2 separate regions of the Homo sapiens genome follow, and region 2 is linked to region 1. Evidence: fine-mapped expression QTL. A gene starts in region 1. The other region holds a variant in brackets. All regions are shown on one strand. Distances are from middle to middle.

Evidence for each region.
Region 2: its variant is fine-mapped to the expression of EPHX3 in whole blood (TOPMed, PIP above 0.99). The same link has a PIP of 0.9 or more in blood mononuclear cells.

Annotation. Positions count from the first base shown.
Region 1 is chr19:15,226,533-15,235,482 of GRCh38, forward strand. It overlaps EPHX3 (epoxide hydrolase 3), which reads right to left and starts at 5,916. Exons shown (of 7, transcript NM_024794.3): 1 at 5,437-5,916; 2 at 5,244-5,329; 3 at 4,707-4,864; 4 at 4,430-4,558; 5 at 1,465-1,568; 6 at 1,239-1,375; 7 at 387-1,130. The coding sequence starts at 5,679. The coding sequence ends at 905. RefSeq lists an enhancer at 5,666-6,167 and a silencer at 6,506-6,665.
Region 2 is chr19:15,204,895-15,214,731 of GRCh38, forward strand. No RefSeq gene overlaps it. Among named protein-coding and RNA genes, the nearest start is that of NOTCH3, 8.8 kb to the left of the region's middle. The variant G/A (reference allele first, on the strand shown) is at 5,516.

The sequences.
Region 1 (8,950 bases):
TACCCTCATCAGCGCTGCCACACACAACTTTCTTCACTGATGCGGCAATTGAGCACTTGAAATACAGCTGGTATGGCCAGGCACAGTGGCTCACGCCTGTAATCCCAGCACTGTGGGAGGCCAAGGTGGGCAGATCACTTGAGGTCAGCAGTTCGAGACCAGCCCGGCCAACATGGTGAAACCCCATCTCTACTGAAAATACTAAAATTAGTCAGGCCTGGTGACGCTCCTGTAGTCCCAGCTACTCGGGAAGCTGAGGCACAAGAATCGCTTGAACCCGGCAGGTGGAGGTTGCAGTGAGCCTAGATTGCGTCCACTGCACTCCATCCAGCCTGGGCGACACAGCAAGACTCTGTCTCAAGGGGAAAAAAATGAAATACAGCTGGTGGGACTGAGCACTGCATTTTCATTGTATTTCATTTCAATTAACATACATTTAAGCTGAAGTAGCCAAATGTGGTCAGCAGTATTGTATTCAGAGTAGCACTGAGCTGAAGACCCAGGCAGGAGGTCGAAGGCAGGGACAGGAAGGTCAGGGTTTAAGGTCTGTGCAGCTATGGCAGAGAAGCGACTTTGGCAAAGCGCAGAGTGAGGCCCCAGGAAGGGAGGAGGTGGGACACTCGGTCTCGGCATCTGGCTCCACTGGAAGAGAGGTATACCCAGTTCCCAGGGTCAAAGTGTTTGTTACACACACATGCATCCATGCCTGTGTGTGAGTATAGGGGTTGGTGTGTCCCGAGGCACCCATAGGTGCGCTTGTGTGGGATCCAGGAGTCCCATGCCTATGAGCGATTCAAGAGTTCACCCATGTATGGACATTGTATGGACTCCCAGGCACACACAGATAATGGGTGTGTGTTCCTTCCTGAGTATCCATGCCTCCTGGGCAGGCCAGCAAGGACCACTAGTCCAGCAGGTCTTGCAAGAAGGCCCACATGTACTGGTGCATCTCCTGGGGGTTGCTCTGTGGGATCCAATGCCCTATGCCTGGCAGGATGTGGGCCTCCAAGCGGCCCGGCACAAAGCGGCTGCCGATGGCTTCCACCAGCCCCAGCTCCAAGTAAGTGTCCTTCTCCCCCCACAGCAGCAATGTGGGTGTGGTCAGCTCCTGGGGTTCCAGGGGGAAGTTCCTGTGGCCAGGACAGACAGACAGGCAGACAGACAGGCAGAAGGATGGTTGCCTCCCACCCCCCTGCCCCTGCAAATCTCCTGAGCTTATGCTTGGCAACTGGTCTCACCTGAAGAGGTTTCGGTAGTAGTTGAGGGGCCCAGTGAGGCCACCAGGCTGTGAGAAGTTATAAAGGAAGGCCTCGAGCTCGCTGGGGGTCAAGCATGGGATGCCTGTCTTGCGGTGGGTGAGGGTGGTCTTCAGAATCTAGGTACACAGCAGGACTCTGGCTTCAGTGCCCAGCCTGCCCAGCCCCGACCTGCTTCCCTCCTCCCTTCAACCTGCACCCTCTGTACCTGAAAGTCAGACATAGACAGCAGCTTCTCGGGCAGCCAGGGCAGCTGGAACAGGAACATGTAGTGGGAACGGAAGAACTGGCTGATGTGGTGCAGGGAATAGTCTGGGGTGGGAGGGTTGGGGGAGAGATATAAGGCCTGCTCCTGGGGTGGCCCCATACACCTGCACCCCTACACATACCCAGGTCAGGGACACAAGCCTCAGGAATGCCACTGCTGCCTGCCTGGGTCTGTGAAGGTACTAGATACCCCTCCTGGCCTGGGCACCAGCTACATTCCCTCCTGCCATGTTTCACTATCCACAGGATGGGGGCATCTCCTGGGAACCCCCATATCCAAAGGTGTGCTTCCTCTGCCCAGGCCAGGGTGCGTTTCCTCTGCTTTATTCAGCTAACATTTATTGAGCAACTACTGCATGCCAGGCCTTGTTCTAGACACAGCAGTGAATGAGACAGTCAAAACTCCCTGTTCATCCTAGGCAACTTAAGGAAACCCCTGTATCTATAATTTTTTTTTTTTTTTTTTTTTTTTTTTTTTTTTGAGACAGAGTCTCGCTCTGTCGCCCAGGCTGGAGTGCAGTGGTGTGATCTTGGCTCACTGCGAGCTCCGCCTCCCGGGTTCACGCCATTCTCCTGCCTCAGCCTCCCGGTAGCTGGGACTACAGGCACCCGCCACCACGTCCGGCTAATTTTTTTTGTATTTTTAGTAGAGACAGGGTTTCACAGTGTTAGCCAGGATGGTCTCGATCTCCGGACCTCATGATCCACCCGCCTCAGCCTCCCAAAGTTCTGGGATTACAGACGTGAACCACCGCACCCGGCCTCCAAAAAATAATTTTTTAAAAATTAGCAGGGTGTGGTGGTGTGTGCCTATAGTCCCAGCTACTTGAGAAGCAGAAGTGGGAGGATCGCTTGAGCCCAGGAGTCTGAGGCTGCAGTGAGCTGCAATTACAGCACTGCACTCCAGCCTGGACCACAGAACAAGACTGTCTCAAAGGAAAAAAAACAAAACACAAAAAAAGACACCCCCAAAAGACAAAAAACTCCCTGCCCTCAGGGAGCTGACAGTCTAGATGGGGAGACAGACAAGTAAACAATAATAGGCTGGGTGCGGTGGCTCACGCCTGTAATCCCAGCACTTTGGGAAGCCAAGGCGGGTGGATCACTTGAGATCAGGAGTTAGACACTAACCTGGGCAACATAGTGAAAACCCGTCTCCACTAAAAATACAAAAATTAGCTGGGCGTGTTGGGGCATATCTGCAGTCCCCGCTACTCTGGAGGCTGAGGAAGGAGAGTCACTTGAACCCAGGAGGTAGAGGTTGCCAGGCAGGGTGGCTCACTCCTGTAATCCCAGCACTTTGGGAGGCTGAGGCCGGCAGATCGCTTGAGCCCAGGAGTTCAAGACCAGCCTGGCCAACATGCTGAAACCCCATTTCTACTAAAAATACAAAATAATTAGCCGGTCATGGTGGCACACATCTGTAGTCTCAGCTACTGAGGAGGCTGAGGCAAGAGAATCACTTGAACCTGAGAGGCGGAGGTTGCCGTGAGCCGACATTGCGCCACTGCACTGCACAGAGTGAGACTCCATCTCAAGAAAAAAAAAAAAAAAAGGGGCCAGGCGTGGTGGCTCACGCCTATACTCCCAGCACTTTGAGAGGCCAAGGTGGGCAGATCACAAGGTCAGGAGATCAAGACCATCTTGGCCAACATGGTGAAACCCCGTCTCTACTAAAATACAAAAAATTAGCCCGGCATGGTGGCCTGTAATCCCAGCTACTTGGGAGGCTGAGGCAGGGGAATCGCTTGAACCTGGGAGGCGGAGGTTGCAGTGAACTGAGATCACGCCACTGCACTCCAGCCTGGCGACAGAGCAAGACTCTGTCTCAAAAAAAAAAAAAAAAAAAAAAAAAAGAAAAGAAAAGAAAAAGAAAAAAAACAACAAAAGAGAGAGAGAGAGCACAGTTATGACCACAGTGCTGCATATTAACATCAGGTGATATGATAGACATTGTTAACCTCCCCAGCCTCAGTTTCCTCCAGCTGGAACATGGGGATAATACAACCTTCATAAGCCCAGGAGCCTTAAGTAGGTTACTGTGTGCATATTCCTTGTTACTGTAAGTGCTATAAAAAAATGTGGATTACTCCTAAGTGTATTGTGATTTATTTTATTTTATTTTATTTTTGAGACAGAGTCTCACTCTGTCATCCAGGCTGGAGTGCAGTGGTGCGATCTTGGCTTACTGCAACCTCCACTTCTCAGGTTCAAGTGATTCTCTTGCCTCAGCCTCCCGAGTAGCTGAGACTACAAGCGTGCACTACCATGCCTGGCTGATTTTTTTGTATTTTTAGTAGAGACGGGGTTTCACCATGTTGGCCAGGCTGGTCTTGAACCCCTGGGCTCAAGCAATCCACCGGCTTTGGCCTCCCAAAGTGCAGGGATTACAGGCAGGAGCCACCACGCCTGGCCATACTTTATTTTATTTATTTATTTTTTGAGATGGAGTTTTGCTCTTGTTGCCTAGGCTGGAGTGCAATGGCATGATCTCAGCTCACTGCAACCTCCACCTCCCAGGTTCAAGAGATTCTCCTGCATCAGCCTCCCGAGTAGCTGGGATTACAGGCATGCACCACCAATGCCTGGCTAATTACATTTTTTTTTTTTTTTTGTAGAGACAGTTGGGGTCTTGCTATGTTGACCAGACTGGTCTTGAACTCCTGGCCTCAAGTGATCCTCCCACCTCAGCCTCCCGGAGGGCTGGGATTACAGGTGTGAGCCACTGGGTCTGGCGTGTCATTAATTTCCGAATGAGGAGTTCCACAACCGAAGGGACCTGGGTTGATTGCTGCACCCTCAGCCCCTGATGTGTTGACAGGTATACAGAGAATTGAAAACACAGACACATGTCCCTGCCCCCTTGCACATAAGTACATCCCAGTGTCCCGGACTCCCACACACACCTTGGTACACCGACATGGGGGCACCACTGACCACAACCATCCGCTCGACCAGGGATGGGTAGTAGATGGAGAAATGCCAGGCAAGGAGGGCACCCCAGTCATGGGCCACAAGGATGCACTTCGAGTAACCTGTGGGAATTCAAGGAGCTCGCATAAGTGAGGTGCCCAGTAGGACTGAAGCAGGGATGGGGGAAGTAGGTTCCAGCAAGGAGAAAGCGGGGGTATGCGTGTGTGCAGGATGAGGGAGGCCACGCCTAGGATGGGGGTATGTCTGCACCCAGGCCTAGGATGACATCTTTGATGTCCACCAGCAGCAGGTCGATTGTGTAGCAGTCCACATCCCGAGGTGCATCCGAGGGGCCATAGCCTCGCAAGTCCACAGCCACAACATGGAAGCGGCTCTGGAACTCCCGGAGCTGGTAACGCCAGGAGAACCTGCCAGGCGGGCGAGGGAGGGAGGCTGAGTCAGGGCCCTCAGGTTGCACCTGCACCCTACGCACATCAGCAACCATTGGCAAACCCTCCTTCCTGCTCTAAACTTCCCCTAAAAGGAGGATGGGGAATCCCAGGCAGAGGCAGAGGCTGAGGCTGAAGCCAGCTACACCCTGAATCCAGGGAACTTCAATCAACCTCAATACCCCTTTGTCCTGTCCCTTCAGGGCCTAGGGATCCTGGGTATGCTGGCTCAGTACCCCTATCCCCATCTATGTTCAGCTTGTCCCGATCTATACAGCCCTCCTCCCTGCCTCTTGGGAGCCCAAGCTCCACCTGCCCCCGAGTCCCGTGGGCCTCAGGCCCCTGGCCCCAGACGTACCAGTTCTCAGGGAAGCCGTGCAGAAACAGCATGAGGGGTCCGTTACCTCGTCCAGCCGAGACATAGTGCAGACGCAGGCCCGAGCTCTAGGGGGAGGGCACAGCCTGAAGCCTGGGGAACCCTCTCTCCCGAGGCTTGAACCGTCTCGACCCCACGCGACCCCGCAGCCCCGATAGCGCCCCCGTGCGATCACCTTGAGGTTCAGGAAACCGTGCTCACCCAGCGAGGGGTCGCTCAGGCAGGCGGGGGACGCGCTCCGACGGCGCCCGCAGCAGCCGCGCCGGGGCCGGCACAGCACGTGCGTGAGCGCTATGCAGCCGTAGACCGCCGCGGCCACCAGCGCCACCGAGAACACCAGGCTCCACATGAAGGCGCGCAGCAGCTTCAGCGACAGGCGCGACGGCGCCAGCAGCGCGGTCACCACCAGCTCCGGCATGTCGCCGCGCTCCGGGACCACGGCGGCGCTGCCGGCCAGGGGCACCTGCAGCAGCGGCGAAGCGGTGTCAGGGCTCAGGGGCCCATCGCCCTTGGCCTGGGGCCCCTCCGTGCCGTCGGGATTTGTGGGACGCGCTGAAGGAAGAGGCGGGCGGCTCCGACAGAAAACAGCCAGAGCGCACCACTCACCTGAGTGCCAGGTAAACACCTGGGCGCGACAGGGACAGGAAACAAGGGTAGGGTGCGGAGGCTGGGGAGGAAGAGGTTGGAAAGGGGGGAAATAAATGGGCGGGGCCTAGCAGGTCCTGTGCGGGGCTTAGGGCCGGGGCGGGGCCCAGGAAGACTCAGCAGCGGGTGGGTGAGGGTCTAAAGGCGGCAATTCCGGGCCGGGTGCGGTGGCTCACGCCTGTAATCCCAGCACTTTGGTAGGCCGAGGCGGGCGGATCACCTGAGATCAAGAGCTCGAGACCAGCCTGGGCAACGTGGTGAAACCCCGTCTCTACTAAAAATACAAAAATTAGCTGGGCGTGGTGGCGGGCGCCTGTAGTCCCAGCTACTTGGGAGGCTGAGGCAGGAGAATCGCTTGAACCCGGGACGTGGAGGTTGCAGTGAGCTGAGATCGCGCCACTGTACTCCAGCCTGGGTCACAACAGGGAAACTCCGTCTCAAAAAAGAAAAAAAAAAAAGGCAATTCCGAGCCCAGACAAACCTTAAGGAGGGGATCCTGGATCTTCAGTTAAGTGGGCGACACCTGGAGTGAGGGGCGGGGCATATGCAGAGTAGGTGCGGCCTACAAGCCAAAAAGGAGAAAGAGTTGGAATGGTGGGCCTGGCTTATGCGGGTGGGCGGGGAGAGGGTGGATCCTAGAGGAGGTGAGGCCTAACATTGGGCGAAGAAGGCGGGAGCCTGGGCCAATGAGCTGACGGTAGGCCGGGGAGGGGGCGGTGGGGTGGGGTGGGCAATGGGCAATGAGACGGAGGGCGGGGCCGGGACCTAATATGGCGGGTCAGGAGGGTCTGGAAGACGAAGAAGAGGGACAGGCAATGCCAGGTCTAGGACTAGGAGGGAGGCGCGGGCGGTATTAGCGGCTGGAGGAGGCTTCGGGAGGCCCGGCCGACGGCCGCCGCCTGGTGCTACCCACCCAGGGGCGCGCGACCCTCCCTTCGGTCTGGCTCCAAAGACCTAGCAGCACTGACTTCACCCAGCTGTGGTTCCAACGGCGGGTCCAGCGGCCTCGGCCCGGCGCCGTCCTCCTGCTGGCCCAACAGGCCCGCCAGCCCGCCCCTGTACGTCTGTGATTGGACGGCGGCGGCCACTGATGTTCAAGCGACAGGTCCTGGCCCGGGAGCCAATCTGCAGGTGTTGAGGCCCAGGCTCCGAGAGCGGGCCGAGGAGGCGTGGATACCCTGATTCCTAGGGGGCAGGCCTGGTTCCCCCGAGGAGGACCCGGCCTATGAATGACTGGAGTTCTGGGGTTCTGGCCGAAAGAGGAAGTGGGACAGGGCCGGGTGTGATGGGGCCTAGAGTCACAGAGCCTTGCGGCCCTGCTGTCCCTGCAAGAAGCCAGCTTCTGGCCAGGCGCGGTGGCTCACGCCTGTAATCCCAGCACTTTGGGAGGCCGAGGCGGGCGGATCACGAGGTCAGGAGATCGAGACCATCCTAACATGGTGAAACCCTGTCTCTACTAAAAATACAAAAAATTAGCCAGGCGTGGTGGCGGGCGCCTGTAGTCCCAGCTACTAGGGAGGCTGAGGCAGGAGAACGGCGTGAACCCAGGAGGCGGAGGTTGCAGTGAGCTGAGATTGCGCCACTGCACTCCAGCCAGGGCGACAGAGCGAGACTCCGTCTCAAAAAAAAAAAAAAAAGCAGCCAGCTTCTTCCTCCTATTTTGCAACCTTCTCCCGATATCCTTGAACATTTTAGGGACAGCCATCACTTAACCATAGAGCAACCCTATTAAGTCTAAGTAGCATAATCACATTCCTGTAGTATAGATCATGAACCTGAAATTCGAGGATGAAGTCATTTGCCTGAAGACATACATCTTGTAAAATAGCCATCCGCAAAGATGTAGGGAAAAAGGCAGCGATCTGTGGCTACACCTCCCCTTCCTCCCGGAAGCAGCCACTGGAACGTTTTTAGCTTTTTCTTTTTTTTTCAGATGGAGTTTCGATCATAGCTCACTGCAGCCTCGAACTCCTGGGCTCAAGCACTACAACCTGTAGTTGGGACTACAGGCCTGTGCCACCACACTCAGCTAATTTTTCAAAAACTTTTCAGAGAGACGACTTGCTATATTGTCCAGGCTGGTCTCAAACTCCTGGCCTCAAGCAATCCTCAAGCCTCCACCTCCCAAAGTGGGATTACAGATGCAAGCCACCGTGCCTGACCTTTATTTCTTGACTTAACCAATGTATGACATCAGCCACTGACTTGCTCACATCACTACCCCGGACGTGCCGTTTTTTGTTTCCCTGTTAGTTTCCTTTAAAAACACTCCACTTGTCACCTCTTGCCCCTTTCCACCTCCCACTTTTATCCATATACCTTTGTACTGTCAAGGCTGCTAAACATTATACTGTCCTGGGACCATAACTAAGTCCATGAAGTTGCCACTTAAAGGTGAATAGTGGTTTATGTTCTGCCTCAGTGAACAATGCATCTCAAGAGCCGAATAGACCACTATGATTACATTGCCCATAGTGTACAAACTTTTGTTCTCCCTGGACTACTTAACCACTACCTTTCTTTTGTTGTGTGATTAGCCTACATCAAAGCTTTGGGGGTTTTTTTGTTTTTGTTTTTTTTGAGATGGGAGTCTCACCATATCACCCAAGCTGGAATGCAGTGGTGTGATCTCGGCTCACCGCAACCTCCGCCTCCAGTGTTCAAGCAATTCTCCTGCCTCAGCCTCCGGAGTAGCCGGGACTACAGGTGTGTGCTACCGCGCCCCGCTAATTTTTTGTATTTTTCAGTAGAGATGGGAGTTTCACCATGTTGGCCAGGCTAGTCTCTTAACTCCTGACCTCAAGCGATCCTCCCACCCCGGCCTCCCAAAAGTGCTGGGATTACAGATGTGAGCCACCGTGCCTGGCAGCTTTTTCTTTTACACCTTCCATTAAATCAATTATCTCACAATTTGATGTTCCCAGGATCTCTCCCAACCGACTCCGCTAATCTGGACGCATGGGTGGTGGGTGTCTGGGGAACCTCCCTTCTTCCTCTCCTACACATCACTGACCCCCCGCCCTCATCTCCCCGCTTCTCCCAAG
Region 2 (9,837 bases), 21 kb before region 1:
TCTTTCATAAACATACTACAGTTTTTGCCCCAGTCTGTATTCAAAGTTTGCTAGTTGCCCAAATAATATCCTTTATTGGGCCAGGTACAGTGGCTCACACCTGTAATCCCAACACTTTGAGAGGCCAAGGAGGGAGGATTGGTTGAGGCCAAGAGTTCAAGGCCAGCCTGGGCAACATAGTAAGACTCCTGACTCTACAAAACTAGAAAAAATTAGCAGCATATAGTGGCGCGTACCTGTAGTCCCAGCTACTCAGGAGGCTGAGGTGAGAGCGTTGCTTGAGCCCAGGAGGTCGAGGCTGCCGTGAGCTGTGATCATCCTGCTCCACTCCAGTCTGGATAACAGAGCAAGACCCTGTGGGGAAAAAACAAAAAAATTAGTGGCCGGGCGCGGTGGTTCACACCTGTAATTCCAGCACTTTGGGAGGCTGAGGCCGGCTGATCACCTGAGGTCAGGAGTTCAAGACCAGCCTGGCCAACATGGTGAAACCCCTTTTCTACTAAAAATACAAAAATTAACTGGGCATGGTGACAAGTGCCTGTAATCCCAGCTACTCGGGAGGCTGAGGCACGAGAATCGCTTGAACCCAGGAGGCGGAGTTTGCAGTGAGCCGAGATCGCGACACTGCACTCCAGACTGGGCAAAAGAGCATGATTCAGTCTCAAGAAAAAAAAGAAAAGAAAAGAAAAAAAAAATTAAATCTTTTATTGCAATGTTTCTTTGCTGGCCCAGGATCTATCTAATGCTGCATCATGAGTTGCATCTAATCCTTTTGTTTTGAGACAGAGTCTCGCACTGTCACCCAGGCTGGAGTGCAGTGGCATGATCTTGACTCACTGTAACCTCCACCTCCCAGGTTCAACTGATTCTCCTGCCTCAGCCTCCCAAGTAGCTAGGATTCTCCTGCCTCAGCCTCCCAAGTAGCTAGGATTCTCCTGCCTCAGCCCCCCAAGTAGCTAGCCACCACACCCGGCTAATTCTAATCCTTATATCTCTTGGTCTCTTTTAATCTGAATTGGTTCCTCAGTCTTTCTTTGTCTTTCATGACACTGACGTTTTTGGAGAGCTGAGGTCAGTTGTGCAGAATGGCCAGCAGTTGTGCAGGAATGGCTGGCCTGCCATTTCCTCGTGATCAGGTTCAGGCTGTGCATCTTCGGCAGAAACCACAGAAGCATTGCTGGGTCCTCCTGGGTGCATCGTATCAGGAGGTTCCTGACATCAGTTCCCAGCATTGGTGATGTTCAGCTGTCATCACCGGGGCAAAGTTGGTCAAGTTTCCCTGCTATAAGGGTGCCATTTTCCTCCCTTTCCATCCTCCCCCTTTGTAAGGGGGATGAAAGTTGAATGACTGACCAGGGGCTAGCATCGCAGAACAGTTACCCTATAGGGAGATACATTGAGACCGTGTGAATATCCTACTGCCCAATAAGCTTTCCCCCATAGATTTTAGCATCTTTTGATTATTTCTCCTGATCATTGTTTTGCTTTCTTTTTTTGTTCGTTTGTTTTTGTTGTTGTTGTTGTTGTTTTCTTTCTTTCTTTCTTTTTTTTTTTTTTGAGACAGTGTCTTGCTCTGTTTCCCAGGCAGGGTTCCAGTGGCACAATCATAGTTCACTGCAGCCTCGAACTCCTGGGCCCAAGTGACCCTCCTTCCTCAGCCTCCCGAGTAGCTGGGACTATAGACACGCCCCACAACTCCTGGCCTTCTCTGGTGCTTTTTGTTTTAATTGAGGTAAAATTCACATAACGTAAAATTAAACATTGACCACTTTAAAGTGTGTTCATACTGTGTGACCATCACCTCTAGTTACAGATCATTTCCATCCCTGCAAACGGAAACCTCCCCATTCTCCCTCCTCCAGGCCCTCGAACCCACTAATCCACTTTCTGTCTCTATGAATTTATCCATTCTGGGCATTTCGTGTCAATGGAATCATACACTATGTAGCCTTTTGTGTCTGGCTTCTCATCATGTTTTTGGGGTTGTTCTATGTTTTAGCATGGATCCTGGCTTCCTTCCTTTTAATTTTATTTTATTAGTTATTATTATTATTATTATTATTATTATTATTATTATTATTATTATTTTTCAAGACAGGGTCTCACTCTGTTGCACCCAGGCTGGAGTGCAGTGGCACGATCTCAGCTGACTGCAACCTCCATCTCCTGGGTTCAAGTGATTCTCCTGCCTCAGCCTCTTGAATAGCTGTGACTACAGGTACTTGCCACCACACTCAGCTAATTTTTGTATTTTTAGTAGTTAATAATCCTAGTTATTTTGTAAAAATATAAAAATTTATGTTTTTAATAGAGCCTCACCATGTTGGCCAGGCTGGTCTCAGCCTCCCAAAGTGCTGGGATTACAGGCATGAGCCACTGTGCCCGGCCTTCCTTCCTTTTTATGGCTAAGTAATATTTCATTGAATGGCTATACCACACATTACTTATCCAGTGGTCCATTAATACTTTGGATGGATGATTTTTTTTTTTTTTGAGACGGAGTCTCACTCTGTCACCCAGGCTGGAGTGCAGTGGTGTGATCTCAGCTCACTGCAACCTCCGCCTCCTGGATTCAATCAATTCTCTGCCTCAGCTCTCAAGTAACTGGGATTACAGGCACTCACCACCATGCCTGACTAATTTTTGTATTTTAGTAGAAACGAGGGTTTCACTATCTTGGCCAGGCTGGTCTCGAACTCCTGACCTTGTGATCCACCCGCCTCGGCCTCCCAAAATGCTGGGATTACAGGCATGAACCACTGTGCCTGGCTGGATGGATTTTTTTTTTTTTTTTGACGGTCTCTTGCTCTGTTCCCTAGGCCGGAGTGCAGTGGCGCAATCTTGGCTCACTGCAACCTCTGCCTCCCAGGTTCAAGAGATTCTCCTGCCTTAGCCTCCTGAGTAGCTGGGGTTACAGGTGCACCACCATGCCCAGATAACTTTGTGTATTTTTAGTAGGGACAGGGTTTCACCATACCGTCCAGGCTGGTCTCAAACTCCTGACCTTGTGATCTGCCCGCTTTAGCCTCCCAAAGCGCTGGATTACAGGCGTGAGCCACCACGCCTGGCTGGATGGATGATTTTTAAAGGCTGAAAGAGAAAGAAGCAAAGGAGACAGAGAAGGATTGTCAAAGAGAGACAGCCGGGCATGGTGGCTCATGCCTGTAATCACACTTTAGGAGGCAGATGCAGAAGAATTGCTTGAGCTCAGGAATTCCAGATAAGCCTGGGCAACATAGTGAAATCCCATCTCTATAAAAAATTTTAAAATTGCCGGGTGTGGTGGCTCACCCCTGTAATCCCACCATTTGGGAGGCCAAGGCGGGAGGATCATAAGTTCAGGAGATGGAGACCATCCTGGCTAACATGGTGAAACCCCGTCCCTACTAAAAAATACGAAAAATTAGCCAGGCATGGTGGCACGTGCCTGTAGTCCCAGCTACTCAGAGGCTGAGGCAAGAGAATCGCTTGAACCCGGGAGGCAGAAGTTGCAGTGAGCCGAGATTGTGCCACTGCACTCCAGCCTGGGTGACAGAGTGAGACTCCGTCACAAAAAAAAAAAAAAAAAAAAATTAATTATCTGGGCATGGGCACACACTGGTAGTCCCAGCTACTTAAGAGTCTGAGGGGCTGGGCGCGGTGGCTCACATCTGTAATCCCAGTACTTTGGGAGGCCGAGGCGGGCGGATCATGAGGTCAGGAGATCGAGACCATCCTGGCTAACACGGTGAAACCCTGTCTCTATTTAAAAAATACAAAAAATTAGCCGGGCGTGGTGATGGGCGCCTGTAGTCCCAGCTACTCGGGAGGTTGAGGCAGGAGAATGGTGTGAACCTGGGAGACAGAGCTTTCAGTGAGCCGAGATCGTGCCACTGCACTCCAGCCTGGGCGACACAGCGAGACTCCATCTCAAAAAAAAAAAAAAAAAAAAAAAAGAAGAGGCTGAGGCGGAAGGATCGCTTGAGCCCAGGAGTTCCAGGCTGCAGTGAGCTATGATCACACCACTGCACTCCAACCTGGGTGACAGAGCTGTCTCAAAAAGAGAGAGAGAGAGAGAGTGCTAAGGATGAAAGTTGAGGCCCGGGCACAGTGGCTCACGCCTGTAATCCCAACACTTTGGGAGGCCGAGGCGGGCAGATCACAAGGTCAGGAGTTCCAGACCAGCCTGACCAACATGGTGAAACCCTGTCTCTACTAAAAATACAAAAATTAGCCGGGCATGGTGGCGCATGCCTGTAATCCCAGCTACTCAGGAGGCTAAGGCAGGACAACCACTTGAACTCGGGAAGTGGAGGTTGCAGTGAGCCAAGATCGCGCCACTGCACTCCAGCCTGGGTGACAAAGCGAGACTCTGTCTCAAAAAAAAAAAAAGAAGAAGAAGAAAGTTGAATGACTGACCAGCGGCTAGCATCACTGACAACCCCTGGTCTTGCCCTGGCTTCTCAGAGGGCAGGAGGTGAAGATGTTCAATCATTTCCATCTTACAGGTACAGCCATATAACTTAGAGAAGACAGGCCAGGCGCGGTGGCTCACGCCTGGAATCCCAGCACTTTGGGAGGCTGAGGTGGGTGGATCACCTGAGGTCAGGAGTTTGAGACCAGCCTGGCTAACATGGTGAAGCCCCGTCTCTACTAAAATACAAAACTTAGCTGGGCACGGTGGCGGGTGGCTGTAATCCCAGCTACTCAGGAGGCTGATGCAGGAGAATCGCTTGAACCTGGAAGGCAGAGGTTGCAGTGAGCCGAGATCGCACCACTGCACTCCAGCCTGGGCAACAATAGTGAAACTCCATCTCAAAAAAAACAAAAAACAAAAAAAACAGTGACTCACTGCAGCCTTTCTGGAAGAAAAGTTGAGGTTTGAAGCTAAGTCTCAAGCCAGGTGTAGCGGTGCACGCCTATAGTCCCAGCCACTCGGGACACTGAGGCAGGAGGATCGCTTGAGCCCAGGAGTTCCAGGCTGCAGATGATCATGACACTGCATTCCAGCCTTGGAGCAAGACTTTCTCAAAAGAAAAAAAAAAAACTGGCTGGGCACAGTGTAGCACACCTGTAATCTCAGAACTTTGGGAGGCTGAGGCAGAAGGATCACTTGAGCTCAGAGTTTGAGACCAGACTGGGCCACATAGTGAGACTCTGTCTCTACAAAAAAAGAAAAGAAAGAATTAGCTGGGTGTGGTGGTGTGCACCTGTTGTCCCAGCTACTCAGGGGGCTGAGGCAGGAGGATCACCTGAGCCTAGAGTTCGAGACCAGCCTGGGTAGCACAGTGAGACCCCATACACCTGTAGTCCCAGCTATGTGGGCGTCTGAGGCAGGAGGATCACCTGAGCCTAGGAGTTCCAGACTGCAGGGAGCCATGGTCGAGTCGCACCACTGCACTGCAGCCTGGCCAACAGAGTGACCTTATTAAAAAAAAAAAAAAGGAAGAAAAAGAAAAAAAATGAACCTGGGTCTCAGTGACTCCCGGCCACATGGAGTACAGGGGCGGGGTAGGGGTTGGGCAGAGGAATAACA[G/A]AAGTTGCCTAAGAAGGGGCACACACTGACTCACGGTGACTGTGCTGAGTCAAGAGGCCCATGGGGACAGGCACAGATCTAGTCCTGCGTCATGCCTACCACCCAGGAAGGAAATCCAAGGCCCTCAGTCCTGCATTTGGGCCCCTTGGGCCGGGACTGACCCTCTCCTTCCTAACCCTCCCCACCAAACCCCCAGCAAAAACAACAAACAAAAAACCATTGTCACACCATGTCAAACCCCAGATGCAACCAGCAGGCCTTGTGCTCCCATGGTCTTTGCCTGGGTGCTTCCCTCTGCCTGAGACACCCAGCTGCACAGAAACACCCTTTTGCTTCCTCCCCAAGCAGGAACTCACAGCCAGTGTGACCTCTTCAAAAATTCATTTTCTTCCAGCTAGAGGGAATGTTCTGCTGTTTCTCACACAGTTCTCACACAGGCCACCCCTTTGCCCATGCCGCTCTCTTTATTTTTTTCTTTTCTTTTCTTTTTTTTTTTTTTTTTTGAGACAGAGTTTCGCTCTTGTCACCCAGGCTGGAGTGCAGTAGTGGTGTGACCTCGGCTCACTGCAGCCTCCACCTCCCAGGTTCAAGTGATTCTCCGGCCTCAGCCTCCCATGGAATTACAGGGGCGGGCCACCACACCCGGCTAATTTTTGTATTTTTAGTAGAGATGGGGTTTCACCATGTTGGCCAGGCTGGTCTCGAACTCCTGACCTCAAGTGATCCGCCCGCCTCAGCCTTCCAAAGTGCTGGGATTACAGGCGTGAGCCACCACGCCTGGCCTGCTCTCTTTCTTTCTTTCTATTTATTTATTTACTTATTTTTAATAGAGACAGGGTCTCGTTCTATAGGCCAGGCTGGAGTGCAGTGGCGTGAACACAGCTCACTGCAGCCTTGACCTCCCAGGCTTAAGTGATCCTCCCACCTTGGCCTCCCGAGTAGTTGGAATTACAGGTGCTCAGCACCACACCCTGCTTATTTTTGTATTTTTTGTAGCGATGAGTGTCTCGCTATGTTGCCCAGGCTGGTCTCAAACTCCAGAGCTTGAGCGATCCTCCTGCTCTTGGCCTCCCAAAGTGCTGGGATTCCAGGCCTGAGCCACTGTGCCTGGCCCCTTATTTCTATTTCTGGTTACCTCCTATCCATTCTTCAGGGATACCACTCCGGGAAGTCCTCCCTGTCCCTCAGTCTGCGCTGCTCTCTCCCCGACACCCCCGCTCTCCCGGTGCCCTTTTTCTCCATGGCTCAGCCTTGTTCACAAGGGGTTGGGGGTGTCTGTACCCTGGTTTGTCCCCTATTTAAAGACTAAGGGCTGGCTGGGCACAGGGGCTCATGCCTGTCATCCCAACACTTTGAGAGGACGAGGGGGGTGGGTCACCTGAGGACAGGCATTTCAGACCAGCCTGGGTAACATGGTAAAACCCTGTGTCTACAAAAAACACAAAAATTAGCTGGGCATGCTGGTGCATACCTGTAGTCCCAGCAATTCAGAAGACTGAGGTGGGAGGATTGCTTGATCCTGGGAGGTGGAGGTTGCAGTGAGCTGAGATCGTGCCCCTGCACTCCAGCCTGGGTGACAGACTGAGACCCTGTCTCAAAACAAAAACAAAAAACAAACAAACAAAGGACTGAGGGCTCCTTGGGGGTTAGACAGAGGATGAGGCTTCTTGAGGGTCCCAGCATCCCCCAGCATGGAGTGAGCAAAAAGCAGGTGACGTAGGACGGTTTGGTGACTCAGGAAGGGGCTGAAGGAGCTGGGAAGCCCAGCCCAGAAGAGCCACTTCAGGGCCGGGCGAGGTGGCTCACGCCTGTAATCCCAGCACTTTGGGAGGCCAAGGTGGGCAGATCACGAGGTCAGGAGATCGAGACCATCCTGGCTAACATGGTGAAACCCCATCTCTACTAAAAATACAAAAAATTAGCCGGGCGTGGTGGCAGGTGCCTGTAGTCCCAGCTACTCGGGAGGCTGAGGCAGGAGAATCACTTGAACCCAGAAGGTGGAGGTTGCAGTGACCCAAGATCGCACCACTGCACTCCAGCCTGGTGACAGAGTGAGACCCTGTCCCCCGAAAAAAAAGCCACTTAGCCACTTCAGGGGCCTCAAACCACTCTGTTCAGTATAATTTTGCAGGCGGGGGTGGTCTATGGTTCCACAGAAGGGTCTAGGGATTGAGGGGCAAAGTTAGGGCCCTCAAGGAAAGGCCAGCTCCTCCCTTGGCCCATCTGAGAAGGGGCTTTCTTTCTTTTTTTTCTTTATTTTATTTATTTATTTATTTATTTTGAGACAGAATGTCATTCTGTCACCCAGGCTAGGCTGCAGTGGCTCGATCTCGGCTCACTGAAACCTCCGCCTCCGGTGTTCAAGCGATTGAGAAAGGGCTTTCTGCTGGAATGGATGCTGTAGGAGGTGCTGAGCTCCTCATCACTAGGAGCAACCAAGGACCCTGGACACACATTTCACTAGGCAGGAAGTTCAGAGTCTGTGACTGCTGATACAGCACACCCTGATCTGTGGGAGAGGGGGAAGTAACGGTGAAAACCCAGGCAGAGGACTTCACGGGGGAATACAGACTAAAAGAAGAAAGACCCGGCCAGGAGCGGTGGCTCATGCCTGTAATCCCAGCACTTGGGGAGGCTGAGACGTGCGGATCACTTGAGGTCAGGAGTTCGAGACCAGCCTGGCCAATATGGTGAAACCCCATCTCTACTAAAAATACAAAAATTAGTCAGGCTTGGTGGCAGACGCCTGTAATCCCAGCTACTTGGGAGGCTGAGGCAGGAGAATCACTTGAGGCAGGAGAATCATCCCTGCAACCCAGGAGGCAGAGGTTGCAGTGAGCCGAGATCGCACCACTGCACTCCAGCCTGGGCAACAGAGCAAGACTCTATCTCAAGAAAAAAAGAAAAAGACCCCGCCGGGTGCAGTGGCTCAAGCCTGTAATCCCAGCACTTTGGGAGGCCGAGGTGGGCGGATCACAAGGTCAGGAGATTGAGACCATCCTGGTTAACATGGTGAAACCCCGACTCTACTAAAAATACAAAAGAAATTAGCCGGGTGTGGTGACGGGCGCCTGTAGTCTCAGCTACTTGGGAGGCTGAGGCAGGAGAATGGCGTGAACCTGGGAGGTGGAGCTTGCAGTGAGCAGAGATTGTGCCACTGCACTCCAGCCTGGGAGACAGAGCGAGACTCCATCTCAAAAAAAAAAAAAAAAGAAGAAGAAGAAAGACCCATCTACAAAGCACCCGCTCAGCCGAAGATGGGGTCTCAGCTGCGGGTTCCTGCCACTGCCCTCCAGCCACGGTGGTGGGACCCACCCAAGGTGTCCAGATCCCTAGGGGACTGGGCAGTCGGAGCAACCCTTCCCATGGCCTTGCAGCTGCGGCCGCACAGTTCCCAACATGGTGGGGGTGGGCTTGAGCCCCCTCCCCGGCCCCTGCTGGCTGCCTTGGCTGGGGACTGCATTTCTCCTCCATGAGCTCAGTCCCTGGGGACGCGGGACCTGGGGCCAGGCCAAGACACAGCTGCCGGCCCGCTGACCGGGAACCTGAGAATGTGCCCTTGGCTTCTCCTCTTGGGACTACAGTCCCGCCCTCTGCGCGGAAGCTGGGGCCAGGTTCTCGAGCCAGGCAGTGGGCTGTGGGAGCCTAGTGAGAACCAGCAGGAGTGAGGGCAATTGAGTGTGGGCCTTCGGCAAGTGTGGGGAGGCTGGACCCAGCCATGTCCCCTGGACACTGCTTCCCTGGGACACTCCGATGCTTGAAACTTCCATGGCTCCCCATTGCCTGAAGTGACACAATTCCTCCCCACCTCATCAGCTTCATCTCCCTGCCTCTCAGCCTTGTCAGCCTTTGCATGCAGAGTTCCCACTGGTAGGAAAATGCTTCTCATACTACAAAGGCTCCTTTCCCCTGGCTGCTCACTCTGAACCTCCAGCTCTTCTCACCTTCATTCAGTCATTCAACAAACATTTACTGGACACCTACTTGGTGCCAGGCCTTATTGTAGACAGAGGTGACCCAAGACAGAGCCAGTTCCTGCCCTGAGAAGGGAAGCAGACAAGAAACAAATAGGCAAACAAGAACCATCAAGGTTGAGTGCAGTGGCTCACGCCTGTAATCCCAGCACTTTGGGAGGCCAAGGAAGGAGGATCACTTGAGTCCAGGAGTTCAGAACCAGCCTGGTCAACATAGCGAGACCCCACCTGTCTCTTCAGAAGAAAAAAAAAAATTTTTTTTTGAGATAGAGTCTCGCTCTGTCACTAGGCTAGAGTGCAGTGGCACCATCTCCACTCACTGCAACCTCCACCTCCCGGATCCAAGTG